Linked DNA regions of Homo sapiens: regions 2, 3 and 4 are each reported to be linked to region 1. Evidence: microRNA targets listed by miRTarBase, many of them from high-throughput screens and not tested one by one. Region 1 holds a microRNA gene; each other region holds the end of a gene's coding sequence.

Region 1 (7,368 bases):
TAAGGGCTGGATGCGGTGGCTGACGCCTGTCATCCCAGCACTTTGGGAGGCTGAGGCGGGTGGATCACTTGAGGTCAGGAATTCAAGACCAGCCTGACCAATATGATGAAACCCCATCTCTACTAAAAATTCAAAAATTAGCCGGGTGTGGTGGCGGGCTCCTGGAATCCTAGCTAGTAGGGAGGCTGAGGCAGGAGAATTGCTTGAACCCGGGAGGCGGAGGTTGCAGTGAACTGAGATTGTGCCACTGTGCTCCAGCCTGGGCGACAGAGGGAGACTCTGTATCAAAACAAACAACAAGAACAACAACAAAAAAAAAAAAAAAAAAAAAAAACTACACTTAAAAAAAATCTTTTTTGAGACAGGGTCTCCCCCTCGCCCAGGCTCTAGTACAGTAGCACAATCACAGCTGACTGCAGCCTCTACCTCCTGGGCTCATAGGCACACCACTGCACCTGCCACCACACCTGCCACCGCACCTGCCACCGCACCTGCCACCACACCTGCCACCGCACCTGCCACCACACCTGCCACCGCACCTGGCTAATTGACAGGGCATTGCTGTGTTGCCCAGGCTGGTCAACCTCCTGGACTCAAGTGATCCTCCCACTTCAGCCTCCCAAAGTGCTGGGATTACAGGCATGAACCACCATGCCTGGCCACAATACATTTTTTTTTTTTGAGATGGAATTTCGCTCTTGTTGCCCAGGCTGGAGTGCAGTGGTGCAATCTTGGCTCACTGCAACCTCGGCCTCCTGAGTTCAAGTGATTCTCCTGCCTCAGCCTCCTGAGTAGCTGGAATTACAGGCATACACCGCCACGTCCAGCTAATTTTTGTATTTTTAGTAGAGATGGGGTTTCATCATATCAGTCAGGCTGGTCTTGAACTCCTGACTTCAGGTGATCCACTTGTCTCGGCCTCCCAAAGTGCTGGGATTACAGGCATGAGCTGCTGCTCCCGGCCAATAAATATTTTTAAAGGGAAAAATATGTTTCCCCGCCCCCATCACCCCCCAGACACCAGTGTTCTGCTTCTTTAGGAAACATCTCCTGTGTTCACTTCTAGCGCTTCCGGATGAGCACCAGGTCTGTCATTGAGAACATGGAAAGAGAGGGTTTGAGTTAAGGGGCTGGAGAATGCCGGGTAGGAGCACTGCCTTCCTAAAACCAGGTACAATGACACGTACAATCACAGGAACCCAAACTGCTTAGTAACAAGACATGACCAGCCTTTGTGGGATTTGCTTGATTTATTTCATGTATAGGATTTACTTGACAGTATCTCTCAAAGCACTAAACCTACAAGAGACAAGCCCTGGCCTCACTCTCGGCTGTGATCGGATGTTGAGTGCTTTGACAAGTATGGCTGAATAGGGAATCAGAATTCTAAAGGGAAGCGCGCCGCTGAGAGGCCGAGGGGAGAAGCAGCGCCGAGGCTCGCACCAGACCTCACCCTGGAGACCGTCGTGGAGCACACGGCCTCTGCAGCTCTCCTTCCAGAGAAGCCCACGATGTAGCCAGTGAGTGCCCAGAAACAGGCTCCTCTAAAAATGCGAGGCTGCGGAGGCCACGGTTCTCAAGCAGCTTCTGCCCCCTCGAAGGGTCTAGAACCCTTGGACTTGGCCACAAGCCCCCCTGCATCCCAGGAGGCAGTGTGCCGAGTTCCTGGTCTCCTGTCGGGCAGAGCGAGGTGTGCAGTGGCGGTGCCACCGGTGGCCTCCCACTTGGCTTGGACAGCTGGTCGCCCACATCTTCAGGCAGGCCTGGGCGTTGCAGCAGCTCTGGGCCTCTGTCCTCCACTTTCCACTGATGCAGCCATGAGCACGTGCATGGCACACCTGCCTGATCTGAGCACACCTGTGCAGCGCCTTCCATGAGATCCCGAGCACCCCTCCCTCCCACAGCTGCTGTGTCCAGCCTGTCCCCTGCCCTCTGCTTCCTCCTCCGGGCCCTGCCCCCTTCCTGGACTCCAGAGGCTCTTTCTGTGGTGCCACCAGAGCCCCAGAGACATGGAGTCCAGGCTTCCCGCATCCTCCTCTGTCTCCTGCTAAACTCCACACTCTGTCCACAGAGACTGCCCATCACGCCACCAGGTAGATTAGACCAAGCAACACCAGAGCAAACTCCCCCCGTCAGAGGAGAGTGATTCAGAGGACAAAAGATACAGCAGCACTGAGAACGCCCGAAGCACCCGCTTTGCAGACGCCACCTGCCCCGTGATGAGGCTCAGACAGAGCGGCCAAGCAGTCCCCTGACCCACCCAGTACGAGGCTTTCCTGAGCTGGCCAAACGTTTGCCACCGAGCCCAGCAGGCACGCTGAGTGCACCGTCTGTCTCTCTCTTCTTGGCATGGGCGCTGACGGGGCACTGATGGGGCCTTTGGGATGTTGCTCTTCCGGCTGGAAACCTCTGTGGCTGCTGAATTATTGTCCTGCATCCAGGAAGAATGAGGTACCCAGACAAGTGGAGGGTGAGCGAGACGAGGAGGAGCTTTACTGAGTGTTAGAACAGCTCAGGGGAGACCCACAGTGGGTGGCTTCTCTCTGCAGGCAGGTCGTCCTGACAAGTGTTCAGCTCTCAGCAGACAGGGTAGCTCTCCGCAGCTGGTCATCCCGACGTCCGCGTTGCTCTGAGTCTGGGGTTTTTGTGGTCTTCAGGGTGGGGAAGTGCACGCTGATTGGTCCACAGGCAGCCCACCCCAACCAGCATGCACATCCCCCCTCTGACAAAAGCACCGAGTCCTCCTTCCAGTCTGCAGGACTGGCAGCCCGGGCCCCAGGCCCCCTTGAAGCTTCAAGGTGTGGCTTCACCAGGGACCTGCCCCCTTCCACCCAGAAGTCTGTCTGCCTCCCACTGCTGTTCATGGCACCCAGCTTGTTCATGCCAAGGGGCGCCTGCAGGCCAGCACTGAGCCACCCTCAGCCCTCCCTCAGCTTCCCTCCCATGTTCAACAGCGCCCAGTCCCGAGGGGGCTGAGGTGGCAAGGGCTGGTGTGTCCGTGCTGCCCCAAGTGTGGACCCACCCGGATGGTCTGCAGCAGCACCTGGGCTCAGCCCCAACTGTGCTCCACGACTGGAGCGGGCGTGGGGAGTGAGGAGAGGCCAGGCATTTGGAGCAGGCACTTCTAAGCCTGCAGGGGGCAGGGGTGGCCTTCCCAGGCCTCCAAGAGCACAGAGACGCCCGCGTCTAGAGCTGCCCCAGGGCAGCGGGCCGCGGCACGCAGGGAAGGCGGAGCTGCTGCCTGATCCGTGGATCGAGAGGCCCAGCCATGCCTCCGCTGCAGCCGGCATCTTGGCAGCAGCCACTCTAGATGGGCCACTGCTACCATCAGCATCTTAGCACCAGGAGCTTGACCTCACCACAGTGGGGCACGCGGCGTAGCCTCCATTGCTGTCAGACCAAAACCACACTGCTGTGGTTTTCCCAGGTGACCAAGTGAGTATCAAGGAAACAGTCCTTTTACAGAAAGGAAAATAGCCAGGCACGGTGGCTCACGCCTGTAATCCCAGTTCTTTGGGAGGTTAAGGTGAGAGGATCGCTTGAGCCCAGGAATTCGAAACCAGCCTGGGCAACATGGTGAGACCTCATCTCTACAAAAAATTTAAAAATTAGGGCCTGGGCGCGGTGGCTCACGCCTGTAATCCCAGCACTTTGGGAGGCCGAGCGGGGTGGATCACCTGAGGTCAGGAGTTCGAGAGCAGCCTGACCAACATGGAGAAACCTTGTCTCTGCTAAAAATACGAAATTAGCCGGGCGTGGTGGCGGGTGCCTGTAATCCCAGCTACTCAGGAGGCTGAGGCAGGAGAATTGCTTGAACCTGGGAGGTGGAGGTTGTGGTGAGCCGAGATCACACCATTTCACTCCAGCCTGGGCAACAAGAGCGAAACTCTGTCTCAAAAAAATAAAAATAAAAAATAAAAAAATTGGCCAATCATGGTGGTGCACACCTGTCGTCCCAGCTTCTCAGGAGGCTGAGGTGGAAGGATCTCTTGAACCCGGGAGTTGGAGACTGCAGTCAACTATGATCGTGCCACTGCACTCCAGCCTGGGTGACAGAGTGAGACTCTGTCTCTAAAAAAAAATGTAAAAGGAGACAAAAACACTTTTCTGGAGCCTTCCAACTAGATAGTTCTACTAGCCCCAGCGCGGGAGCTTCAGGCCCTGTGAAATTACGCTTTGAGCGACGACCAAAAATCTCTTCACAGTCCTTTAAAACCCTACTAAGCTCTCGGGAAGGCACCATCATGTGCCAAGTCCTGCAGCCGTCAGCAATGAACACACTGAGCGTGAAACACAAACAATAAATTAAAAAAGAACATACATATTTGCTCCATAATAGCAATCCTCAAAGAGAATTTTGGAAATATTTATTTTCCCTTGGCAGGCACGAGGCAATGAACGAATACACTTGGGAATCTATTTTCGAATGCGGAGATAACTCCAGCTTTGATATGTCTGTCTCCAGACGAAGGGACACTCACCCCCACGGGCTGAGAGGCTCATATTTGTCTTTCCGGAGATTAATCCACTGCCTGAGCTTGGCTGGGTCCTCTGACTTAGAAAGTATCCTCTTGACCTGTCCTTGAGGGCCAACAATCTTTTTTTTTTTTTTTTTTTTTTTTTGAGACAGAGTCTCGCTCTCTCACCCAGCCTGGAGTGCAGTGACGTGATCTCGCTCACTGCAACCTCCGCCCACCGGGTTCAAGCAATTCTCGTGCCTCAGCGTCCCGTGTAGCTGGAATTACAGGCACACGCCAGCAAGCCAAGCTAATTTGTGTACTTTTAGTAGACACGGGGTTTTACCATGTTATCCAGGTTGGTTGCGAACTCCTGACCTCAGGTAATCCACCTGCCTTGGCCTCCCAAAGTGCTAGGATTATAGGCATGAGCCACCACGCCCAGCCAAGGGCCAAACAACTTTAAAATGTGTTCATAAATGTAAAAGAATTCCTGATTTTTTTTTTTTTTTTTTGAGACGGAGTCTTACTCTGTCGCCCAGGCTGGAGTGCAGTGGCGCGATCTCAGCTCATTGTAACCTCCGCCTCCCGGGTTCAAGGGATTCTCCTGTCTCAGCCTCCTGAGTAGCTGGGATTATAGGCGCCCACCACCACGCCCGGCTCATTTTTGTATTTTTAGTAGAGACTGGGTTTTACCATATTGGCCAGGCTGGTCTCCAACTCCTGACCTTGTAATCTGCACGCCTTGGCCTCCCAAAATGCTGGGATTACAGGTGTGAGGTACCGCGCCCGGCTTCCTGATGGTCTTTTTAAGCGCCCTACGAGTTTCAAAACCATCTTTCGTTTCTGTTTTCATGGAGTCATGGATGCTCACAGTCTGAAGTGCTGTCACGATCCACGATGTTGGACCCTGGCCCACCCGAACCCCTGTCTCCCTTCCCCATTTTAATCCTTTAAAATAACTTCTTTTGCTATGCATCTCCAGATTGATGAAGAACATACTTACATTCCTACTTCCTGACATTTCAGTTTTAGGCATCCACTGACTTTCCACTACAGAAGATGAAAATGTAGCTCTCGGTCACTGACACACCCCACCCCTGTAACTCCAACACACACAGTCACACACATCCTGTACTCACTGACACACCCCACCCCCGTAACTCTAACACACACTCACACGCTCCCTGTACTCACTGACACACCCCAACCCTGTAACCCTAACACACACAGTCACACATCCTGTACTCACTGACACACTTCACCCCGTAACTCTAACACACTCACACGCTCTCTGTACTGACACACCTCACCCCTGTAACTCTAACACACACACTCTCACACACATCCTGTACTCACTGACACACTTCACCCTGTAACTCTAACACACACACGCTCCCTGTACTAACTGACACACCCCACCCCTGTAACTCTAACACACACTCACATGCTCCCTGTACTCACTGACACACCCCACCCCTGTAACTCTAACACACACACTCACACGCTCCCTGTACTCACTGACACACCCCACCCCTGTAACTCTAACACACACTCACATGCTCCCTGTACCCACTGACACAGCTCACCCCGTAACTCTAACACACACACTCACACCCTGTACTCACTGACACACCCCACCCCGTCACTCTAAAACACACACACTCACACACCCTGTACCCACTGACACACCCCACCCCTGTAACTCTAACACACACTCACATGCTCCCTGTACCCACTGACACAGCTCACCCCGTAACTCTAACACACACACTCACACCCTGTACTCACTGACACACCCCACCCCGTCACTCTAAAACACACACACTCACACACCCTGTACCCACTGACACACCCCACCCCTGTAACTCTAACACACACTCACATGCTCCCTGTACCCACTGACACAGCTCACCCTGTAACTCTAACACACACACTCACCCACTGACACAGCTCACCCCTGTAACTCTAACACACACACACGCTCCCTGTACTCACTGACACACCCCACCCCTGTAACTCTAACACACACACATGCTCCCTGTACTCACTGACACACCCCACCCCTGTAACTCTAACACACACACTCACACGCTCCCTGTACCCACTGACACAGCTCACCCCTGTAACTCTAACACACACTCACATGCTCCCTGTACTCACTGACACACCCCACCCCTGTAACTCTAACACACACACTCACACGCTCCCTGTACTCACTGACACACCCCACCCCGTAACTCTAACACACAAACTCACACGCTCCCTGTACTGACACACCCCACCCCTGTAACTCTAACACACACACTCACACGCTCCCTGTACCCACTGACACACCTCACCCCTGTAACTCTAACACACACACTCACACGCTCCCTGTACAGTTTTGTTGCTTTTTAAGCTAGATGGATATTCCATTCTACACTGTCATAACCAGGTGCTATGGTTTGAATGTGTCCGCTAAACTTCACGTTAGAAAGGTAAACCTCCAGTTTGTATGTTGATTGGAGGTGGGGCCTTTGCCAAGTAATTAGGATTAGGTAGGGTCAGCAGGGTGGGGCCCTGATGATGGTACTGGTGGCCTTACAAGGAGAGGAAGACACCTGAGCTGACGGGCTTGCGCGATGCCCTCTGCCAGGTTATGACGCAGCAGGAGGCCCTCCCCAGATGCAGCCCCTCAACCTTGGACTTCCCAGCCTCCAGAACTGTAAGAAATGCATTTATTTTCTTTATAAATTACCCAGTTTGTGGTATTCTGTTACAGCAACAGAAAATGACACCAGGTAGACGCCATCCACAGCTGAACCACCATATGGTATACAATGTTTATTTTTCCTTCATGTACGAATTTTTGTTTCTACTGGAGTTAAAAATTGCCTCATTGTACCAGGCGTGATGGTTCATGCCTGTA
Region 2 (7,368 bases), not on the chromosome of region 1:
TCCAAACAGTTCACCAGAACCTGGCACTCAACCAAGGAGAATTATTATTGCAAATGCGATTGCTATGGGCTCTAGAGGCAGCAGAGTGACTCGGGACCTGCCCACAGATGCTGGGCCTGCTCCTCAGGAGTTTGCAGTGACACGGGGAGGGGGATTTGTAGGCAAACTGCCTAGGTCCTAATCCAACCCCCGGCCCCTGAAATGAATGATCTTGGACGAGTTCCTTCAGTTTTCTGACCTCAGTTTCCTTGCTGGTAAGGTGGAAGTAATAACTACCTGGCTCCCAGAGTTGCGGCAATTCAGAGAGAACTTAAAGCGCTTGACACAGAGAAAAACATGCCCTGTTACTGGCAATATTATCATTGTGGCTAACCCTTAAATCGGGCCTAAGCACAGGGGCCATCGTCTGGCAGAATGTCACGGGCGATGTCGCAGACTCAGCATTAGGTGTACACAGTAGGGGTGTTAGCAGGGGTAGGTTGTGGACCCGAGGCCGGGCAACACCCTACGCCCTTTGCAGGGTACTGGGGTGTCTCCCTCCCAGGGGTGCCCCCGGGCCCAGCAAGGTGCAGAGACGTCCCCCGGGGTGTCAGGTGCATTAGGCCGAGAGGTATCAGCCGGGCCGGCAGGGCCAGGGCCATCGCCCCGGACTCCCCGGACCCTCACCCGCCCAGCCCCCTGCCTCAGCTTCCTCAGGCTTCCCGGCGGCTCCTGAGGCTCGCAGTCCCCACAACAGGGCGGGCCGGGGCCGTTACCCCGGGGACGACGCGGAAGAGCCAGGACCCCATGGGAGGGAGGCAGCGCTGCCGCCGCGCCCAAGGGGCGAGCTCGAGCCCTGCTTACGCGGGCCCGCGCAGTCCCGCCCCAGCCCCGACCCCCGCGGCACCTGAGCTGCGGCTCATGCGCTTCTCCCAGCCGGGCGGCAGCTTCTCCTCGTCCGCCATCTTCCCTCCTGCCGCAGCGCCTGCTCCGCCTCAGCTGCGCCGCCTGTCGCCCGCGCCCGCCCGCCGCCGCTGCCTATTGGCTAGACGCGCTCTGCAACGGGGCCTGGCGGCGACGCCCATTGGGCTCCCTAACGGTCCGGATTGGCTTTCTGGCCTTCTATTGGGTAGAAGAAAGGCTGGGCGGACCCTCCCACGTTATCCCTGCGCCCCGCCCCCGGCCAGCCTCAGCCTGGCCCCGCCCACTCGCTCTCCTCGGCTCCTGAGTGGTCCGAAGCGACGCGGGCCCGCCCTTCTCAACGCCCTTTAGCGAGCGCCAAAAAACTCCCGACCCCTTCTTGGCGCGCGTCGCCGCAGAGCCCACCCAGGCGGGATAGAGCTTATGGATTGGCTAATGCCGCAGCAACTCCCGCCTGCCTGAGCTGTTCCCGGAGGTCCGCAAGCCCCCAGCCCTCCCATGCGGAAGAGTCTGGCTGGTGCAGAGGTAACGGCGGTCCAGGAGGTACTTGGGCGGGGCGGTGCTGCCTCTGCTGTTGCCATAGCAATGCAGTTGCCTTGGAGATGAGCACCTAAGTACCCGATGCTTAAATTTGGCTCCTCCATCCTCCCTCTTCCCACCTGTTTCCCACAGATGTCCAAAGCTAACCCAGCCTCTTTTATTTTTTGCAGGGCTCAACTTTTCCCTAGGCTCTGGACCCAAAGGCCTTCCACGTCCTTTGGAACCTGCTTACTTCCTTTATTCCCTCGCAGTCTGGCTCCTTCCTCCATCCTGGGTGACCAGTGGGTGCCGACATTGACATTCATATAAGAACACGGAGGAGGTGCAGGTGGGAGGAGATGGGCTCAGTTTTAGCCAACTTAAAATAGAGTCTGCAGAGCCCGTGGGACACAGGGGAGGTATTTGGGGACCCAGAGTTGGGGAACTGTGGGTAGATATGGGAGTTGAAGACACTGACAGCAAAGGGTGCAACTACAGTTCACCTAGCATAGAACCCTATGTGACCGTTAAAAAGAATGAGGCTCAGTGAAGTGAACTCATAGGGAAACCTGCCCACAACAAATTAGACGCAGGATGCAGTAGAAGGCTAAGAGAAGTCTGGAGCCAGACTTGGGTTTAAAGCCTGGGACTGACACTTGCTATGCGACCTTGAACTGATTACTTAACGTTACTCTGTACTTCGGTTTCCCAATCTGCAAAGCGGGGATAAGCAATTACATCCTTCTGTTTGATGTGAACATTAAATAAATTAATCCACATAAAGCACTCAAGCCAGGCTCGGTGGCTCACACCTGTAATCCCAGCACTTTGGAAGGCCGAGGTGGGTGGATAACCTGAAGTCAGGAGTTCGAGACCAGCCTGGCCAACATGGTGAAACCCTGTCTTTACTAAAAATACAAAAATTAGCCAGGCGTGATAGTGGGCACCTTTAATTCCAGCTACTCGGGTGGTTGAGACAGGAGAATTACTTGAACCTGGAAGGCGGAGGTTGCAGTGAGCCGAGATCGCACCACTGCACTCCAGCGTAGGTGACAGAGCGAGACTCCATCTCAAAAAACAAAAAAAGTTTAAGTTTTAATAGAACATTTTTTACAAGTATTAGCATAATATTAAAAAGATACTTTTTATAAAGATAATTTTAGACATGGGCAGTTACAAAAACAGTAGGGTTTTCATGTACCCTTCACCCAAACTTCCCTAATATTAGCGTCTTAAATAAACAATAGAACAGAATTCTCAACCAGTAGCGATTTTGTTTCCCAAGGGACATTTGGCAACATCTTGATACATTTTTGGTTGTTACAACACCTTCAGACATTTTGGAACAGGAGATACTACTGGCTACTGGCATTTAGTATTAGATGCCAAGGATGCTGCTAACATCCTTCAAGGCACAGCCCCCACCAAAAGAATTATCCAATCCAAGGGCTGAGTGTGGTGGCTCACACCTGTAATCCAGGGCTTTGGGAGCCCAAGGCAGGAGGATCGCTTGAGCCCAGAGTTGGGGACCAGCCTGGGCAACATGGCAAGACCCTATCTCTACAAAAATAATTCACTGGGTGTGGTGGCACGTGCCTGTAATCCCAGCTACTTGGGAGGCTGAGGTGGGAGGATCTCTTGAGTCTAGGAGTTAAGAGGCTGCAATTAGCCATAATCTTGCCACAGCACTCTAGCCTGGGTGACAGAGGGAGACTCTGTCTCAAAAAATAAATAAATAAATAAAAATAAAAGGCTGGGTGCGGTGGCTCACGCCTGTAATCCCACCACTTTGGGAGGCCAAGGTGGGTGGATCAAGAGGTCAGGAGTTCAAGACCAGCCTGGCCAAGATGGTGAAAACCCATCTCTACTAAAAATACGAAAATTAGGTGTGGTGGCGGGCGCATGTAATCCCAGCTACTCGGGAGGCTGAGGCGGAGAATTGCTTGAACCCCTGGAGTGGAGCTTTCAGTGAGCCAAGATCGTGCCACTGCACTCCAGCCTGTCTCAAAAAAAAAAAAAAAAAAAAAAAATCCAACCCAAAAAAGTCAACAATGCCAAAGCTTAGAAACCCTGCTATAATATAATTATCAACACTAAGAAACCAATATCAATATAATACTATTAACTAAACCACAAATTCCCCCCAATCCTGTTTTCCCACTAGTGTTTTTATGTTCCAGGATGGGTGCTCACTGTTCCTGGAGTGTCACTGTTTCTGGTCCCTCTAAGTGGATAGAGCAAGGAAATATACATATGTATACACACATCTATATGTATCAATATATCTGTTAAACGAAAACCATGAATTCAGACTGATGCCTCCAAATCCAGTCCTACAAGGTTCATTTTAAGCATTCCCATCTCCTGTTTTATTTGTAACTTCCTTCTCCACAGTGAGACACCCAGCTCTCATTATCTACAAGTTTACTTATTTGTTCAACCCTGTTTGTGTGTATTACATGGGCCCATGTGCCCACACCCACACACACAAAAGTAGTTTCAAAATTGCTAAATCATGGCTGGCCCAACGGCTCACACCTATAATCCCAGCACCTTGGGAGGCTGAGGCGGGCGGATCACTTGAGCTCAGGTGTTTGAGACCAGCCTGGCCAACATGGTGAAACCTTGTCTCTGCTGGAAATACAAAAAATTAGCCAGGTGTGGTGGCTCGTGCCTGTAGTCCCAGCTACTTGGGAGGCTGAGGCAGGAGAATCGCTTGAACCCGGGAGGCAGAGGTTGCAGTGAGCCGAGATTGCACCATTGCACTCTAGCCTGGGCAAAAAGAGCAAAACTCCATCTCAAAAAATAATAATAAAAAATAATAATTAAAAAAAAGCACAGAAAAGCAAACTATGGAATGTCATATAAATATTACGGGACATATAATTATCCCCGTATGATAAAAACTCTAGGTTATTCCAGAAAGTTTCTAGAGTCACTCAAATGTATTAATGCCCACCACTGGTGGGAGGAGTGGTATAAGAAATAAGAAATTCAGGGCCGGGCGCAGTGGCTGACACCTGTAATCCCAGCAATTTGGGAAGCTGAGGTGAACGGATCATGAAGTCAGGAAATCAAGACCATCATGGGTAACATGGTGAAACCCTGTCTCTACTAAAAAAAATTAGCTGGGTGTGGTGGCATGCACCTGTAATTCCAGCTACTCAGGAGGCTGAGGCAAAAAAATCACATGAACCCAGGAGGCGGGGTTTACAGTGAGCTGAGATCATGCCATTGCACTCCAGCCTGGGCAACAAGTGTGAAACTCCATCTCAAAAAAAAAATTTTTTTAATTTAAAAAATAAAACAGGACAGGAGCAAGGTTGACACAAAGAACTGTGGCCAGGGGAACAGAGGGACAGTTGGTCTCCTGTCTACTCACACCTAGAGGAAGAATACAGCAAATAACATTATGTGCCAGGCATCCTGCTATTCTAATTGCGTGGTCTCATTGAGATGTGGGTGCCACTGTAGTGCTCATTTTTAGAGGATGAAACTGAGGGTCGCAGAGGCTGAAATCCCACTGCTAAGGATCAATCAAAATTCAAATCTAGTCGGTCTGACTCTTGAGGCTGGGATCATGTAGCCACACTTATAGTGCCACACTGCCTCACTGTCTACTATCACGTTTTGTCTTGAAAAGAAGTGCTAGGGCCAGGCATGATGGCTTGTGCCTATAATCTCAGTACTTTGGGAGGCCAAGGCTGGAGGATCACCTGAGGTCAGGAGTTCAAGACTATTTTGGGCAACATAGGGGAGACCCTGTCTGTACAAAAAATTTCAAAATGCCAGACGCGGTGGCTCACGCCTGTAATCCCAGCACTTTGGGAGGCCGAGGAGGGTGGACCACTTGAGGTCAGCAGTTTGAGACCAGCCTGGCCAACATGGTGAAACCCCATCTCTACTAAAAATACAAAAATTAACTGGTGTCATGGGGCACGCCTGTAGTCCCAGTCTCCTGCCTCAGGTGAGGCAGGAGAATTGCTTGAACCCAGGAGGCAGAGGTTGCAGTGAGCTGAGATCGTGCCACTGCACTCCAGCCTGGGTGACAGAGCGAGACTCTGTCTCAAATAAAATAAATAATAATAATAATTTTAAAATTAGCTGGCGTGGTGGTACACACTGCCCAGCTACTTGGGAGGCTGATGCAGGAGGACTGTGTTGAGTCCAGTTCAGGGCTGCAGTGGGCTATGAACATACCACTGCATTCCAGCCTGGGTGACAGAGCAAGATCCTGTCTCAAAAAAAGAAAAAAAAAAAATGCCAGGAACTGTGGATGTTTAAACATGCTTTAAACTCATTTATACCTCCTCACAATATGCCGATTGAAAGCAGACATGAAGTAAACGCAATTATTTCCAGTGGATAAGGAAGTAAAGGCTTACAGAGGTTAAAAAATTTTGCCTAGTGTCACTCAGCTGCTTGGTGGCAGAGCTGACATTCCACACATGGTCTGTGTGATTTCAGAATCTGAATTCCTAACAATTACATCTACTGTCATTAGCCGGAGGTTCTTTGGTTTATTAGGGTGACAATAATCCCAGAGTCTCTTGACCTTCAGACACCCACAGCAAACCCCAGAGCTCTCTCTGGGCTCCCACACAGACTCCCAGCCTGCTGGTCTACTCTGCCCTCATGGATCCAGTTGATCAGAGCTCTTATTTTAGCAGCTGCATGCTGATGGTGCAGTGATGACCAAACAGCGACTGATCCACCCATCACTAGACAGCTGTCATACAGAGACAACAACAAAGCAACATCTAAGTCTTTATTAAGGTGAGTTTTTACAAACAAGCATCTATCCCAGTGTGGGGGATGAGGATGGGAGAGGAAAGCGGGGCAGGAAGATGAGGATTCTCATCTATTGATAATAAAGCTCCAGGTTCATCCCATCGTGGATTTCATCTGAAGGAAAGGTGTTAAGGAATCCTGACTCTGACTTCCGTCCCCACCCCTCTCATCCATTCACAGCCGGGTCAGGTGGCCTGAGGTCTCAGCCCAGGGCTAAGGAAGCCCATTTTGGACCAGGCCATTTTTATTTGGAGAGAACCAAAACTTTACAAAAGAATTTCTGGCTGGGTGCAGTGGCTCACACCTGTAATCCCAGCACTTTGAGAGGACGAAGCAGGTGGCTCACTTGACGTCAGGAGTTTGAGACCAGCCTGGCCAACACGATGAAACCCTGTCTCTACTAAAAATACAAAAAGTTAGCTGGGTGTGGTGGTGGGCACCTGTAATCCCAGCTACTTGGAAGGCTGAGACAGGAAAATCGCTTAAACCTGGGAGGTAGAGGCTGCAGTGAGCCAAGATTGTACCACTGCACTCCAGCCTGGGCAACAAGAGCAAAACTCCATCTCAAAAAAAAAAAAAAAAGTTTCTGTTCCTTCTAGGCCAGGCACAGTGGCTCACGGCTATAATCCCAGCACTTTGGGAGGCCGAGGCGGGAGGATCACTTGAGGCCAGGAGTTTGAGACTAGCCTGGCATACATGGTGGAACCTCATCTCTACTAAAAATACAAAAACTAGCAGGGAGTGGTGGCACACACCTGTAATCCCAGCTACTTGGGAAGCTGAGGCAGAATTGCTTGAACCCGGGAGGTGGAGGTTGCAGTGGGTCAAGATCGTGCCACTGCACTCCAGCCTGGGCGACAGAGCCAGACTGTCTCAAAAAAATAAATAAATAAAATAAAAATTGTAAAAAGTTTCTGCTCCTTTTGCACAATAGATATGCCTGAGTCTCACCCCACCCTGACCTACTGTCCAGCACTCAGGTGGAGGTCAGTAATAAATATTTTGAACTTGAAGTCAAACTATTTCACCAACCACTCTCCTCCCCAACCAAATAATTACCTAGCTCCCATTTTCTAAGTGCTCACCATGTGCCACGTATTAAGTTAAACACTTAATATGCATAAGCTCATGCAGACTTTAGTTTTGAACAGATAACCG
Region 3 (7,368 bases), not on the chromosome of region 1:
ACGGACCTGGGAGCGCGGGAGGAAATGGGTCAGGCTCGTCCAAAGGGTGGGCTTAGAGGTCGGACCGGCGAGCGGGTGCAGACCGTGGAGTCCCTTAGCGGGGAGTGGGGATTGCATTGGAGCGCGAACTCCCCAGGAAGGGGACCTGGAGGTTGGGCGGACTCAGGCTGCGGGGCTAGGGATTTGTCAACTCTTTAATTGGACCAAGATTCAAGGTCGGCCAGCAGAGAGGGGGCAGGACCCTTAAAGGCGTGGGCTGGAGGTGGCTGGGGCTTCTGGGGTAACAGGAAACAGGGTCAGGGAAGGAGAAAACGAGATTGGATGGGGTGGGAGGAGCTGCCCTGGGCCCTGGGAACAAGGATCAGAGTAGAGGTTTCTGGGAGGGGCTGCTGCTAGAAGGACAGGACCATCACTGGAGGCAGAGACCACTGCCTAGGCTCCAGGCCTCACAAGGACGGAGATGATGGTGCCCGACTGTACAACCAGGTAAGTAGATGCTGTCAGACAATTCGGGCATGGTGGTCAGTCAGAGCCCTGAGCAAACGGGCCTAGAAGGACTACAGGCACAAACACACCCAGGGGCCCCTATCTGCACACTCCCTCATCCCCAAACAAGTCTGTTTGGGGGTTAGAGTCCACCCAGCACCCGTGCCTCCCCACCTAGGAGCAAGCTCTGTGCAGATCAGAAGTGTGCAGTCAGAAAGCTGACAAGGGATTGGCATGAGGCTGAGGCGTACAGGCCTCTTTACCCTTCCTCTGTGAACGGTGACGCAAGAGGGCAACAGAAGCTGCACTGACCCAGACAAATACCAAGTTTATTTCACAAACACTAGGAAGATGGGTTGAGGGTGGAGGTGGGGGACACAGGTGCGCAGCTGCACAGAGTCAGCAGCAGCAGCCTGCTCCCCGCACTGAGGACTCGGCCTGGACTGCAGTGCCTCCAAATCAACACGCAGCAAGAGGGGAGTGCAGGGAGGGCCCTGAACACCAAGCCTCTGAAAGGCTAAGGGACACAGCTCCAGCTGTCCCAGGAAAACCAGCAATAAATAAAAGTGAGGCACGGCCCCACCCACACATATCATCTAGTCACCCATCTTCACTCTGGAGGTCTGCAAAAAAAGAACAGGAGAAATCAGGCAGGGACAGAGGAATAGGTAAGGCAGTGACAAATGATAGAAGATGACATCTAGCACATGGTTGGATGGACAGACCACAAGAGATATATGACTAACCAGGATGGACACACTGTGACAGACAAGGCAGACAGGGACAGACAACCACAGAGTTACGCTGTGGGACAGACGGAGAGAAGTGGCATATGGATAAAGCTAGTCACTAAGAATCAACTCAGTCAAGCACCCACAGTCACACTCAGACCCTCAGGCTGATCCTTAGTCACAAACTCACACACTGTCAGACAGACTAGACACACACAATTTAGACAATGGTGTCCTACTGACAGGCATGTGAGAGGGAGATACACATAGCTCCGAGAGACAGTCAAACACACCATGACAGACTGATATAGACAGACAAAATTCCATTCTAGTCTAGATCACAAATACAGACTGGAGACATGAAAAGCATGGCAGATAAAATGAGAGAACAGAAAGAGGGAGGACTAAGTGCTATACAGATACAACGCATTAGAAAGGGGGGAAAAAGAACAGGGCTGTTGTCAGTGACACCAAATCAGAGACAAAAATAGAGAGCCCCTGTAGGAGAAAACCAGAAGATGGAAATGAGGAGGTGGAAGCTGTTTGGGGGAATCTATAGTTATAGGTAGAGAAGGAGAGCACTTCAGCTTCTCCAGAAGGAGGGTAAGGCTAGGTTGGGGACAAGGACACAGAGGCTTCCCAAGGGGATTCATCACCTGAAGAATTGCGACGATGACCCCAAAGAGGCCAATGGCGCTGCCAAAGATCTCCACGATGAGAATCTTTACAAAGAGGCTGGGGTTCTGAGCATCGGCCAGGGCAGCCCCACTGCCCACGATGCCCACGCAGACTCCACAGAAGAGGTTAGACAGGCCTACGGTGAGGCCAGCCCCAAACATGGAGTAGCCTGGGAGGATAGAGAGGGGTGCAGTGAGGCTAAGCCAGGAATGGGGGAGATATGGGCTAATGGGGCCAATCACCATCCCCACTCTGCAAAGCAGAAAAAGTAGGTGAGAGAATATCAAAATGATGGCCCAAGCTGGGATGGGGGAGAGTGGAAGCAGGCATGAAGTCCCAGCATTTTGCATTCATACGCCCATCCACCCACCTGCATGGTAGTTCCGATGGCCGATGGCCTTGGGGTCTGTGGCACTGAAAGGCTGAGGGAAGAAGAAAAGTAATCAGAAACCATCCTGATGCACCCCATCCAATCTCTAAGGAATGTGTAGAACACACTGGAATGGATTCCCGCCACCACCCTGGCCTTCCATACCTCAGCCATGTTGCTAATGACAATTGCCATGATGATGCCGTAGATGGCCACAGCCTCACAGAAGATGATGCTGGTAGTGGTAGAGATTAGGGGTAAGGAGTGGAAAGGAGAAAGAAATGAGAAAGAAACCGTCCTTCCTGCCCAGTAAGTCCCCAGCAATCTTTCCCCTATAACATCCCATCCCACAAGGTGGCTTGTCAGAAACAGTATGTCAGATCAAACACACAGGCAGCGCCAACACAGCTGGTTCTGACAAAAGTCCAAGGACCCTGACACTTACCTGACCAGGTTCTTGGTCTTGATCCTGGGGGCCTTCACTCCTCCACCAATGATGGAGGAGCCGGTAATATAGATGCCCCTGGTGGAAGGATAAAAAACTGATGAGCAGAGCCCAAGCTGTCACTGCCCTCAGCATGCCTAAGACCCCAGTGACACCACCTGCCATGACTCAGCCCCTGCCCCCAGTCCCACCACCCCAATACTCACCAGGCTGCCCCAACCACAGACAGGGAGATAGCTAGGCCAATGCCCAGGTTGGACCACATGAAGGGCGAAGTCTCCGTCAGGAACCTGTTGTGGAAGCAGAGAAGAAAGCAGTTCAGCTCTAGCAGGGAAGCGGAGCACAAAATCTTAACCCCTCAAACCCCCTTCAACCCCACCACCAGTTCTACAGGCAACAACTGACCGCGTATTTCCCAAAGGTCCATGTCCCAGGCAGGCAGTGGTGTGGGGGAGGGACTCAGACCAGAGAAAAGAAGAGAGGCTGCAGGGAAGAAGCTTCAAGGGGAATCCTCCCCCTGCCCTCCCTTACCATGCCACATCAAAGCGGAAGCCCAAATCAAAAATGGTGTAGCAGACTCCTGCAGCAGTGAGGGAGAAAAAGGGGGTTACGGGCTGCTCGGTAGAGAGAAGTTCTTCAACCTAAAGTAGCTGCCGAGCTGAAGGGCCACCTCCCTGAAGGGGCGTCCTCAGGCTGCCCCCAGGTGACAGTACAGCTGTGTAGACAGATTCCTCTGCTTAGGCCTCCATTTTCTGCCATTCCCTCGCTAAAACCACCTCCCAGACCAAGCACCTGCGCAGGCAGGGTCGCCACCCGCAAGCCCGAATCCGAGGCGGGACCGAGGGAGCAAGCGCTCCAGCCAGATCCCGCCGGCCCAGTCCGTTCCGCTGTTTACCCAACAAGCTGTGGGTGGGGGAGGGCAAAGCGACTGGGAAAAGAGGAACCGGAGCAGCCGGCTTGTGACCGAGCGGGCCGGTCAGGAGCAAGAAAGGGGGGACAGCAGTGAGACGTGGGAGCGAGGGGAGACAGCGATAGTGGCAGGACGGGGGAGTGCTGCCCTCGCGGCCCCTACCCGCCCGCACCCCTCCTCAAGCAGCTGGAAATCCGGGTCTCCTTTGTCGGAGTCAGAGGCCCTCGCAGGCGCAAGTCCCCAGAGCCTCGGGTGCAGAGCGCGCGGGGGGCCAGTATTCCCCGCAGGCCACTTCCCCGCCGAGTTCCGACCCGGCCAGCTCGGCCGCGATGCTGCTCCCGCCCGCCAGGACCCGGCCTCACCCACGGCCAGCGCGCAGGCCCAGAAGGCCACGAAGACCCCGGAGTAGAGCAGTGCTAGCCCCGTCATGGCGGCGACGGCGGCGGGGGTCGGAACGGCGGGGCCGGAGCTACAAACGCGTCCCAGCGTCCACCGTCCGTCCCGCAGTCTGTCCGCCCGCCCCGCAGCGTCACCTAACTCGCCCACGTGATGCGCCGGTACCACGTGACCCCACGCCGGTTCCCCGCGCAGCGCCGCCGCCCGTCTAGAGCAAGGCGACGCTGGAACCGCAGGCGCTGGGGATTGTGGTAGTTGTAGTCACGCGTCTCGGCGGAGGCTTGGGCGCCCTCCTCTCTAGGAACTTCGACATCTGGCCGGTCCTTCTCGAGTCTCTCCACCTCGCCCTGCCAGCCCTGTTTTATTCCCGAGCCTGCTCGCGGGCCCCTAAGGCGTCCTCTCTGGCAGCCGTGCGTCCTAGCCTGTGGCGGGTGGCGCCGCGCGTGCCCTCTGCCTCACCTTGCTCACGGCGTCTCTCCGCCCCAGTGCGCCTGTTGGCGCTCGCTCCGCTGCCTGGCTAACACCTGCTGTCCTCCGAAATCGTCCTTCCGGCAAGCCTTCCCTAACCCAGTGGCAGGGAAGCGCGTTTGCTGGGCTCCCGCGATGTCCTGGTGATGCTTATTAAGCTTCAGTAAGATGTCACTACCCTGTCGAAATGCCCTGATGGCTCCCATTTCATTCAGGAGAAAAGCCAAAGTTCTCACAATAGCCTGCTAGGCTCCCCACGCCCCTCAGCTGACTTCACCTTCTAATATTCCCCCACTAACTCCCTCCTCTGGCTGCACTGCCCTCCTTGCTATTTCTTTGAACGTGCCAACCATACCGCGACCTCACTGCCCTTGCACTTGCTCTCTCTGCTTCTCCTAACTATACATGCGGCTCATCCTGTAACTTCCTTTCAGTTTTTGCTCACCTTCTTGAAAAGGCCTTCTCTGACCATTCTGTTTAATATTCCACCCCACTTAAACGCTCCTCTGCTTCCCAGCTTTACATTTCTCACGGTACTTACTGATCACCATTTGGCATACTAAGTATTTTATTTGTCCAACTCCCCTGGAAGAGTGGAAGCACCATGGCTTTTGTGTCGCTCACTGCTGTATTTCCAGTACCTGGCACAGAGTGTGTCCTCAGTACATATTTGTAGAACACATGACTGATGCCCACTTTGTCTGGGTTACCTTGTTAGCTTACAGCTCTGCCTCCACCATTAGACTAGGCATTCCCTGAGGGCAGGGACCACATCTCCTTTGTTCACCTTCAATACCCTCGACAATGCCACTGTGACCAGATTCTCAACAAATGTGGGGAAGAAGAGGCGAGTCTTTTCATTTCACCCCTCTCCACCTTTAGGGCCCAGCAACCCCACTTGCTTGAAGCATCCGCCATGTTGGTTCATGTTTAAGCCCAAAGGTCTTTTTCACTCCTTTTCTCCTGACAATTATTTTTTCCTCCAAAAGATCCAGCATAGGTGTTATGCCCTCTGGGAAGCCTCCTCTTAGTCCTTGTCAGGTATCTCCTGTGGGATCCAGCTGTCCCTGGGGCTTCCCTCCTCCCAGATAGAGCTGTTTCACTGTGTACTGACTGCGTATTTAACTCTCTTTCCAGGTACACTGGAAAGGAATCTGGTTAAATACAGTTAACATCTACATCCCAGGACCAGTGCAGGACCTGCAGTATTTCATGAATTAAAAAGAAACACAAAGAGAAAAGGTATCTGGTTTATTTAGGTTGCTGTGATCTCCCTGAGAAATAAGAGTCAGTATAGACCAACGCTGTCCAACCAATAGAACTTTCTGCCATGATGGCATATCCTGTAGCTGCACTGTCCCCTCATGTGGCTGTCTGAACACTTGAATGACTAATGTGACTGAGAAACTGAGCTTTTAATCTTAATTAACTTAAATTTAAGTTTAGCCACATGTATTTAGTGGCTACTGTACTGGACAGTGCAGGTCTAGCTAGACCAGTGGTTCTCAATTGAGGGCAATTTTCCCCCACAGATAACATTTGCCAAGGTCTGGAGATATTTTTGGTTGTCACAACTGGGGGAGTGCTTCTGATGTCTAGTGGGCAGAGGCCAGGGATGCTGCTGAGCACCCTACCATACACCAGACAGCCCCACAACAAAGAATTATCTGGCCCCAAATGTCAAGTACGAGTTTGAGAAACCCTGGTCTAGACTGTCTAGCACCTGCCTTTTGACAAGGACAGACCCTCAACTGCAGCCTGGGAACTGGGATTGGCCAAAGGTCCTGGGCTGCCCTCAGGAAGACAGATGGGTCCAGAGGCCTCAGGGAAGTCCCTAAGCCCTTTATTCCATCAGCCAAACAACACGCATTACTGGGCATGTGCTGAGCTTGTGCCAGTGCCAGGACAGGACAGAGACGGATCCTATCCTGTGAAGGGCTGCCTGCTCTCCCTCCTTCCAGGGTCCTTCAAGGATCTTGGCAGGGGGATGGGAGGTTGGTGCAGGGAGCACTAAAGGTCCTAGCAGCCATTCATAAGTCCATCTATGTCTCCAGCCCCACATGGTATCAGCCGCTTCCCTCATCCTCATAGGCGATGGCAATCCCTCGTCTTCCACTCACAGCTTCTGTCACTGGCGTCTGACCCAGGCGGGGCTCCAGCCCTTGCCAGCTCCGGGAACTAAGGAATGAGGCTGTAGAGGGAGGGGGCTCAGTCTGAGTGCGCTGCATCTGGAGAAAAAGCTCAGCTGGGAGTGGAGACTTGTACATTTACCTGCAGGACTGCTCTCAGCCAGCTCCAGCTGGGGCCGTGGGGTCAGAGCCAAGCTTCCATGATCATTTGATGACTTCCAGGCAGGTGGGGGTCGGAGATCTCCAGTAATGAGTGACACGTCTGGGGTTTCCCACAGCTCTGACTCAGGTGGTGGGAGAGCCACGTGGAAGGGAGAGCCTGAAAGGGAGGAGGAAAGAAAATCCATACTCACCCCCTGACTCCGTGCCCCAGGTTTCCAGCTTAGGCAATGCCCCCACTACTCACCAGGCAATAAGTCCGCATAATGTGTGAGGTGGGGAGCCAGGCCTGGAGGTGGCCAGGCAGGGTTGCAGGCAGCTTCCAGCTCACATGGTGCCAGTATAGGCTGGAAGAAGCTACCAGAAAGCTGGGGGGCTAGAGCACCCAGAGGACAGGCTAATAGCACAAAGACATCCACCTCAGGGAAGTTGGCAAGCTTGGCAGGGGTGGGCCGCCCCAGGGCCAACACATAGCTACGCTTGCCAGCAGCCTGAGTCAGGTTCCGCAAGTGGGCCAGTGCCTCACGGTGTTGGGCTACACCCAGTGTGCCTGCCAGCAGCCCTACCACGCGGGCATCTCTGGCCCTCTCTACCAG
Region 4 (7,368 bases), not on the chromosome of region 1:
CTGGAGTTAACAGGATATAAGCACAGGAAGCTGTTCTATTTTCTCCCCTTAAATTGGAATTTTCATTCTCCAATGGTATGCCCGCGGCACTGTTAAAGGACTGAGGTGTTCTGTTATCCAGCCAGCAGGGGGAGCATTGAACTCGAATTGACATATTGTAGCGATAGAAAGGTCCATCCACTTGGCACTAGGTGTTCTTACTCTGCCTAGCATTAATAGATTCCATTTTAAAGATGTTGTTTAAGTTTTATTTCATCATTATTGTTGTTAATTAAGCCATTGGACACCAAGAGCAATACTACACTACAAAAATATGTTCACTTTGATAGTAAAAATGCATTGTGTGCTTTGCTTAAAAATGTCTTTAAATTTACGGTGAATCTCAATTTTAAGGATACCTTTCTAGATTCCAGTAAGATTGTTAATTTTGGCCAGAATTAATCCTATGTCTGGAGCTCAGAATAATAGGTTTGCTTTGGAGCAATCAGATGAAAAGATTTGGTTCTATTAGGTGATTTGAGGATCCCTGGAAAACAATTACAGTATTGTCCTCAAGACATTTTACAGTGCCAGAAATTGCAATAATTTTTAGGTTAAACTCTATCACTTTTCAAAATTAAAAAAACTAATACAAGCACATTTTACCTAAAAGGCATAGCTCAATTAATTGTCCCCCATTACTGAGTTTGTTTGCTCTTCTTTAAAAAGATTCTGAAGATTGGTGTATTTTTATGTTACAAAGTACAGGTCATAAGGTATATGTCAAGCCTAGTTAAAGCGTAGGACAGAGGACTCATACCAGAAAAGTGGAAGAATAAAAGACAAACCATTATTTACATTTGGACTGGTGCTGGTTGGTTCTCTCAGGTCTTAGGGTAGGAGAAGCAGCATGTTCTGAGTAAGACACCTAAGATGAGATATGAAAGTCATAGTTCAAGCCGGGTGCAGTGGCTCACACCTGTAATCCCAGCACTTTGGGAGGCCGAGAAGGGCGGATTACCTGAGGTCAGGAGTTCGAGACCAGCCTGACCAACGTGGCACAACCTGTCTCTACTAAAAATATCAGATTAGCTGGGCATGGTGGTGCATGCCTGTAATCCCAGCTACTAGGGAGGATGAGGTAGTAGAGTAGGTTGAACCTGGGAGTTCAAGCTGTAGTGATCCAAGATCGCACCACTGCACTCCAGCCTGTGCAACAAGAGTATAACTTCATCAAAAAAAAAAAAAAAAAAAAAAAAAAAAAGAGAAAGTCATAGTTCAGAAAAGTCCAGGGTTTAGCGATGTGGATAATACTTCTTTTGTGCAGTGGCTTATAAAGTCTAATTGGGACATGGACCCCTAGGAATATCAGATGAAATTTGTGGACTTTTCTTCCAAGAAAAATGCACATACCCACAAAGTGTATTTAACATGTGATTTCAGGAGTTCATTGATGCTCCTCCTCCCCTGAAGACCATCCTTGTTTAGTGCAATACTCTCTAAAATGGAAGGGGGTGGTGCATGCATCCCAGGGGCGTGCAGAATGATCCACTGGACTATGGACCCTTCTATGTGTATTTATTTTCTGTCTTTACAGATTTTTTTTCTGTAGAGGTTTTATATTGCATATACTAGCACCATAATATATACATAACATTTATATATAAGTAAGTAAATTTGTTGTAAGAACTCAAATTTTTACTGATAAGGAGGCATAACTCAAAATTGATACACTACCACTTTAGAGAGTGGTGCTAATTAAGTGTAAATTCTACACTCTCTTCTTCCTAAATTAGAGGGCCAGTGATCAGAAAATAAATCAAGAGGCTACCACCAGTGGCCAGGAAATTTTGGACCTAGTGATGACAAGTCTATTGTGCATACTTTACTCAGCACTTTCACACATGCCTGTTTTGGTACCCCCAGCAGTTCTGTGAGATGATATGTGTGGTAATGGCAATCTCTAAGAGCAGGCATGTTAACTAAAGCAGGCATGTTAACTAAATTCTCAAAAAACTTAAGAGACTTTCCCAAGGGCCCTGGGCTAGTCAATGGCAGAGCTGATACTCATAGCCTTGGCTGCTGACCACAAATTATGTGCTCATTTCACTGAAGAGCAGGGATAAGTCGCTCATTATGGGTTGTCTATGGCCCCATTGTTGGACTTACTAGTGCTCCCTAAGGATATGGAGTTGTCGAATCCCTGGCTGATCCAGGCACAAGGATAGAAAACATATTTTAGCTACTTGATCAGAGGGTTAGGAAGCTGAGCTAACAATTCAGCACTAGCTCTCTCCTGTTGGTACTGTAATACCAACATATTTCAAAATAGATAGAGGACTCTGGAAGGGTTTAGATACATCTATGTACAAAAAAGATTTACAATGGGTTATTAAATGGGAGTTCTGAGGCTGGCTTCACAAGAAGTGCCAACTGCTCTTTCTCCCAAATTTCCCCTGGTGCCACTGTCAAAGGCAAAGTACTCATCTAGATGGATTTTTGTTCTGACCCAGAATGACATTTCCAACTTTTCTTATATATAATCCAATTTCTGAACTTCCTTTACAGTGATATTAAGTGGAATAGCATAAAAAAGTCTTTTGGCATTAAAGATAATAAATGTATTCAGCATTGCTCAGGTATCTTTGCTCTTTGCCAATGCATTAGCTGTATTGATTTTAGAATTTTAAATGACCCTTTTTACTAGACTTGATTAATGTCCCCTCCCTAGATCTTGGCTACCTGCTTCTTCTCTCTTTCATGTGCAATTTTCTTCCCTTTCACACTCCTACAAGTTAGAGGTGGCTGACCTTCACTCCACCAAGGGTCAAGAAATGTTGTGAGGAGTATGCTTTGGGCCTGGTGATCAGCCTCTAAAGAGTGGGCTCGTCATGGAAGGGCCAAGTCTTCAGTCTATTGCTCTATGTCCACATTTGAGTCTAGGCCCTGGGAACACTCACAGTGGACCTCCTGGCTTGGTAAGTACCAGGCTGTTTTAATATGTGACTTCCAGAGAAGAAGGATTGAGCCAGAGAGCTTGAAGGTGAAATGAGATCTCTATCAAGAGAGGCCAGTTCAATCCAAATATCAGTTACTGTGTGAGACAAAGGTTAATTTCCCGAGACTCCCTCTAATTAATTAATAGTGTCTTCTGTTATCCTCAGAGGATATGTAATTTAAAATTCTGTTCACACATTATTTTATTCTGCCTCTGGAACCGCACTATAAGCTCCCTGAGCTCCCTGAAGATGCTGTGGCCTGGTAGAGCTTTGTACACCCTCCCAAGCTTCTCTCAGGATGGCTGGTCCATGGTGGATGATGACCCTTAGGCCAGGCTTGTCCTTCTCTTCAGGAAACAGGTGGGTGGGAGGTTGACCACTCCTTCCCTGGAGATGGCTACTCCTGAACCAGATTCTTTTCACTTTTGACTGCTTCTTTCATAATATTTTAAGAGTAAATTTGTTGTAAATAATAATGTAATATAGCTACATTGTTGCAAATTTGAAAATTTTAGGCCTAAAAATCATCCTTAAACTTCTATACAAATGTGCCTACTCTCAGCATTTTTTTACATGTATATTTAAAATATCTAATTATAATGACAGTGTTCTTGAATATTAGATTTTCAAGATTGAAAATTCTATTCTAAGAAGTTTTTCTTTTGTTAAATCATCCTTATAAATGTTATTGGGATACCAAAATTTATTTCACTATTCATCCTATCGTTATCTATTAGATATACTGTAATTTGTTTCCTCATTGTTTACTGGATATACCATAATTTGTTTCCTCATTGTAATCCATTAGGTGTACCATTATTTATTTGACTATTTTCAGTTGTCTCACACTGATGATGATTAAGTGATTATTAAGTGAGCATTGGCTTAGGAAATCTGCTAATTCAGATTCAGTTTGACAAAGGTCATTATTATTATTTAGCATGGCTTTTGCCTCTAGCAGGTACTCAATAAATGCGTTTTATTTTTTTTTGCTATAAGTCTGAGGGTATAGTTCATATTTGATCCAGAGATTTCTGTTTTATCATGTAAGTTTGCATGGTCATTTTAATTACTAATTTATAGAGAGTACCAGCATTCGGATCCCAGGAGTTATCTTTATATATGGTTTGGTCAGATATATATATTCCTTCTTGTCAGACACAGAATATTAGAGCTACAAAGGACTATGGCAGTAACCTCATCAGGTGGTCCTTCAATTGGTGCACATCTGAATTTCACAGGATGCGTAAGAATAGCAATTTCTTACTAAATCTGAATTTGGCAGATGAGGACCAGGAATCTGCATTTTGATTAGGAGACCTTGCTAACTTTTTAAGGTTAATATTACATTTTTACCATGTTCAGTCTTTTGCCTTTAAAACTAATTGAATCTTGAGATGACTTATAACACAAGGCAAATATTACAATCACAATTATGTTCTGCAACAGGAAATAAGCTCTAAATGAATCTTAACATTTTACTTGACACATTACTATGTTTAAGTGTATTAAAGATGTTATTGAAAGGTGCAGGGGAGGAAAATGAACTTGATTTGGCAGGTAGGTGTTCGTGGTACTATTATCCACAACTGTCTATCCTGATTGACAGCACACACATTACCTCTTAACAGGCATTGTATTCAGTTGCCTCAGATTTAAGTGTATGGCATTTTTACTGAATATTTGAAACTGTTTTAGTTAATAGTATTAATTGCTCATAGACCAACTTTCAGCCACTGTTATAAAGTGCTTAATATATAATAAACCAAGTTTCTATAGACCTTTGGTTATAGTAAAATTAGGTCAAAAATGCCATGTTGCTTAAATATTACATATTTTGAGTAGGGCAAATGCTTAATAGTGCTGAAAAGGAATTTTTTCATATTATAGCTATGGAAACTGAAATGCAGAGGCTCAGAGTTTCAAGGTCACTCAGCCACAAGGAACAGAGCCAGAACTGGAGTTCAGCTCTCCTGGGTCCTCGTTCTCTGCTCTTTCTACCACACCAAACTGCCCTTTTTGCATAATTTCTATCTAATCAGAGGCACTTGGTCTAATGGCTGGTAGAGATGCATATTTATATTGCAAAGAGCATTGAAGCAAGGAATTTTACTCAATATGTTCTTTTGGAAAACCAAACATGCTTTATTTCATTTTTTTCACAATTTATTTAAACATCTCACATATACAAAATAGGTACAATTTAATTTTTCTGCTTGCCCAAGAAACAAAGCTTCTGTGGAACCATGGAAGAAGATGAAAATGAGACTGGCAAAGAACAAATGCTGAATCTGAAGAAGATTTGGGCAAATAATCTGCATACTTTTAATTGGGAATAAGATGGAAAATATGAATGCTAAATCAAATTTTTTAAAAAATACACCACACGATACAACTCAATACAGGAGTATTTCTTCTCAAATTCTTCTAGCACCATCAACATTCTTCAAGTATCTGAAATACTATTAATTAGCACCTTTGTATTATGAACAAAACAAAACAAGGACCTCAGTTCATCTCTGTCTAGGTCAGCACCTAACAATGTGGATCACACTCATGGGAAAGTGTTTTGAGGTAGTTTAAACCTTTGGAAGTTTGGGTTTTAAACTTCCCTCTGTGGAAGATATTCAAAAGCCACAAGTGGTGCAAATGTTTATGGTTTTTATTTTTCAATTTTTATTTTGGTTTTCTTACAAAGGTTGACATTTTCCATAACAGGTGTAAGAGTGTTGAAAAAAAAATTCAAATTTTTGGGGGAGCGGGGGAAGGAGTTAATGAAACTGTATTGCACAATGCTCTGATCAATCCTTCTTTTTCTCTTTTGCCCACAATTTAAGCAAGTAGATGTGCAGAAGAAATGGAAGGATTCAGCTTTCAGTTAAAAAAGAAGAAGAAGAAATGGCAAAGAGAAAGTTTTTTCAAATTTCTTTCTTTTTTAATTTAGATTGAGTTCATTTATTTGAAACAGACTGGGCCAATGTCCACAAAGAATTCCTGGTCAGCACCACCGATGTCCAAAGGTGCAATATCAAGGAAGGGCAGGCGTGATGGCTTATTTGTTTTGTATTCAATGATTGTCTTTCCCCATTCATTTGTCTTTTTCTGTTTAAAGAGAAGAAAATAGATACACAAAGCATCACTATTTCTGAATCTGATAATATCTGAACCTTTGATTTAATAAGAACCACTGTTTGGCATGTGTCATTCTGAAGATGTCTGTCCCAGATAAATAAGTTCATCCTTGAAATAACAGTATCAAGGGTGTCTTTAGTGGGAGGGGCTCCCTATCAGTCTAACAAAAAACAAACAAACAAACAAACCAAAAAAACCAACAACATTTCAACACACATTCCAAGTGACCTATCTCTACAAAGTCATTTTTAGGATTGTTGTGTGTATGTCCCTCTATGTGTGTCTTTGGGAGCGGGACCTGGGTGGGTATGTAGTCTTGCTGTTAGTGAATTTTAATTTTTCTTATATTTATAGCATATTGTAGAAAAAGCATTAAAAGTTAAATGTAGGCCATACTAATAAGTAAAATAAAATACACATAACTATAAATTATAGTTTAGGCCACTGAAGTCTCAAGAAATTTTAAGTTCTGGGCACACATTACCATTTAAAAAACATGCTAAAGAAAAAACAATGCATGGACATAGTATACATTTCAGCATTTCAGAAGGCACTATCTGATAAGAATACTCTGAATTTATCATCTGAATTTAAGTACGAAATTAATACGTATAAATAAATAAATATAAAATACATACAAAAACTGAATTTACTTATGAAATAAGTTAGTTCTCTCATTCTTCTGTTCTTTTAACCCCCCTTTAGACCCCCCCTTGGGGGCAGTCTAAGTTAGAACCCCCTCCATCCCACTTCCCAAAGCTATTCCCATATTTCACTATTACTTACAGAGCAGCCATCTACAAGAACAGTGTAAGTGAACCTGCTGTTGCCCTCAGCAACAAGTTCAACATCATTAGAGCCCTGTAGAATGACAGCCTTTTTCAGGTTGCCAGTCTCCTCATCCATGTATGCAATGCTGTTCTTGCAGTGGTAGGTGATGTTCTGAGAGGCATAGTTGGCCAGCAGGCGCATGAAGGCAAGTTGGGTAGCCATTTCCTTGGAAGTCACTCCTTCTACATTATATTCAAACTACAGAAAATAGGATGAAATTCCAGTTAAGTGGAGAAGGACTCAGATACTAAGAGTCAAACATGAAAAAAAAAAAAAAGAAAAAAAAAGATCTCAGGAAGAGTAGACTCAGATCCAAGCTTAGGAAAAGGGTACTTTTAAAGAAAACTTAATTCACTTGTCTTTGAAGTATCAGTTACCTAGATGAACATAAGACCTACTAGACTGAGGCAAGGTCATCTAAAAAAGT

Evidence for each region. The annotated mature microRNA hsa-miR-4525 reads GGGGGGAUGUGCAUGCUGGUU and lies in region 1 at 2,701-2,721, opposite strand. An mRNA with a match to its seed (bases 2 to 7 or 8) in the 3' UTR can be bound and repressed. Matches are read on the target gene's strand: a 7mer-m8 pairs with bases 2 to 8, a 7mer-A1 pairs with bases 2 to 7 and ends in A, and an 8mer does both.
Region 2: the mRNA of UBL5 is a reported target of hsa-miR-4525. Seed matches in the 3' UTR shown: 8mer at 6,229-6,236.
Region 3: the mRNA of DPH2 is a reported target of hsa-miR-4525. Seed matches in the 3' UTR shown: 7mer-m8 at 6,467-6,473 and 7mer-A1 at 6,060-6,066.
Region 4: the mRNA of COL1A2 is a reported target of hsa-miR-4525. Seed matches in the 3' UTR shown: 7mer-A1 at 5,730-5,736.

The regions. Positions count from the first base shown.
Region 1 is chr17:82,665,581-82,672,948 of GRCh38, forward strand. MIR4525 (microRNA 4525) reads right to left here and starts at 2,727; the gene lies at 2,653-2,727. The region is part of intron 1 of RAB40B (RAB40B, member RAS oncogene family); the gene reads right to left. RefSeq lists an enhancer at 3,202-3,381.
Region 2 is chr19:9,828,921-9,836,288 of GRCh38, reverse strand. UBL5 (ubiquitin like 5) reads right to left here. Exons shown (of 5, transcript NM_001048241.3): 5 at 6,174-6,324. The coding sequence ends at 6,281. PIN1 (peptidylprolyl cis/trans isomerase, NIMA-interacting 1) reads right to left here and starts at 971. Exons shown (of 4, transcript NM_006221.4): 1 at 887-971. The coding sequence starts at 944. PIN1-DT (PIN1 divergent transcript) reads left to right here and starts at 1,274. Exons shown (of 2, transcript NR_183873.1): 1 at 1,274-1,425; 2 at 1,611-2,210. RefSeq lists silencers at 680-899, 930-1,269.
Region 3 is chr1:43,971,722-43,979,089 of GRCh38, reverse strand. It overlaps DPH2 (diphthamide biosynthesis 2), which reads right to left. Exons shown (of 6, transcript NM_001384.5): 4 at 7,020-7,368; 5 at 6,756-6,932; 6 at 5,721-6,675. The coding sequence ends at 6,551. ATP6V0B (ATPase H+ transporting V0 subunit b) reads right to left here and starts at 4,130. Exons shown (of 8, transcript NM_004047.5): 1 at 3,983-4,130; 2 at 3,242-3,290; 3 at 2,917-3,000; 4 at 2,711-2,788; 5 at 2,431-2,500; 6 at 2,266-2,317; 7 at 1,874-2,064; 8 at 795-1,109. The coding sequence starts at 4,049. The coding sequence ends at 1,083. LOC124904167 (a long non-coding RNA gene) reads left to right here and starts at 4,225. Exons shown (of 2, transcript XR_007066053.1): 1 at 4,225-4,647; 2 at 5,203-5,725. RefSeq lists enhancers at 1-586, 587-1,178, 3,311-4,143, 4,342-4,391, 4,442-4,561 and 3 more and silencers at 3,592-3,641, 4,042-4,091.
Region 4 is chr7:94,428,959-94,436,326 of GRCh38, reverse strand. It overlaps COL1A2 (collagen type I alpha 2 chain), which reads right to left. Exons shown (of 52, transcript NM_000089.4): 51 at 6,897-7,139; 52 at 5,100-6,080. The coding sequence ends at 5,934. Among named protein-coding and RNA genes, the nearest start is that of COL1A2, 38 kb to the right of the region's middle. RefSeq lists a silencer at 102-151.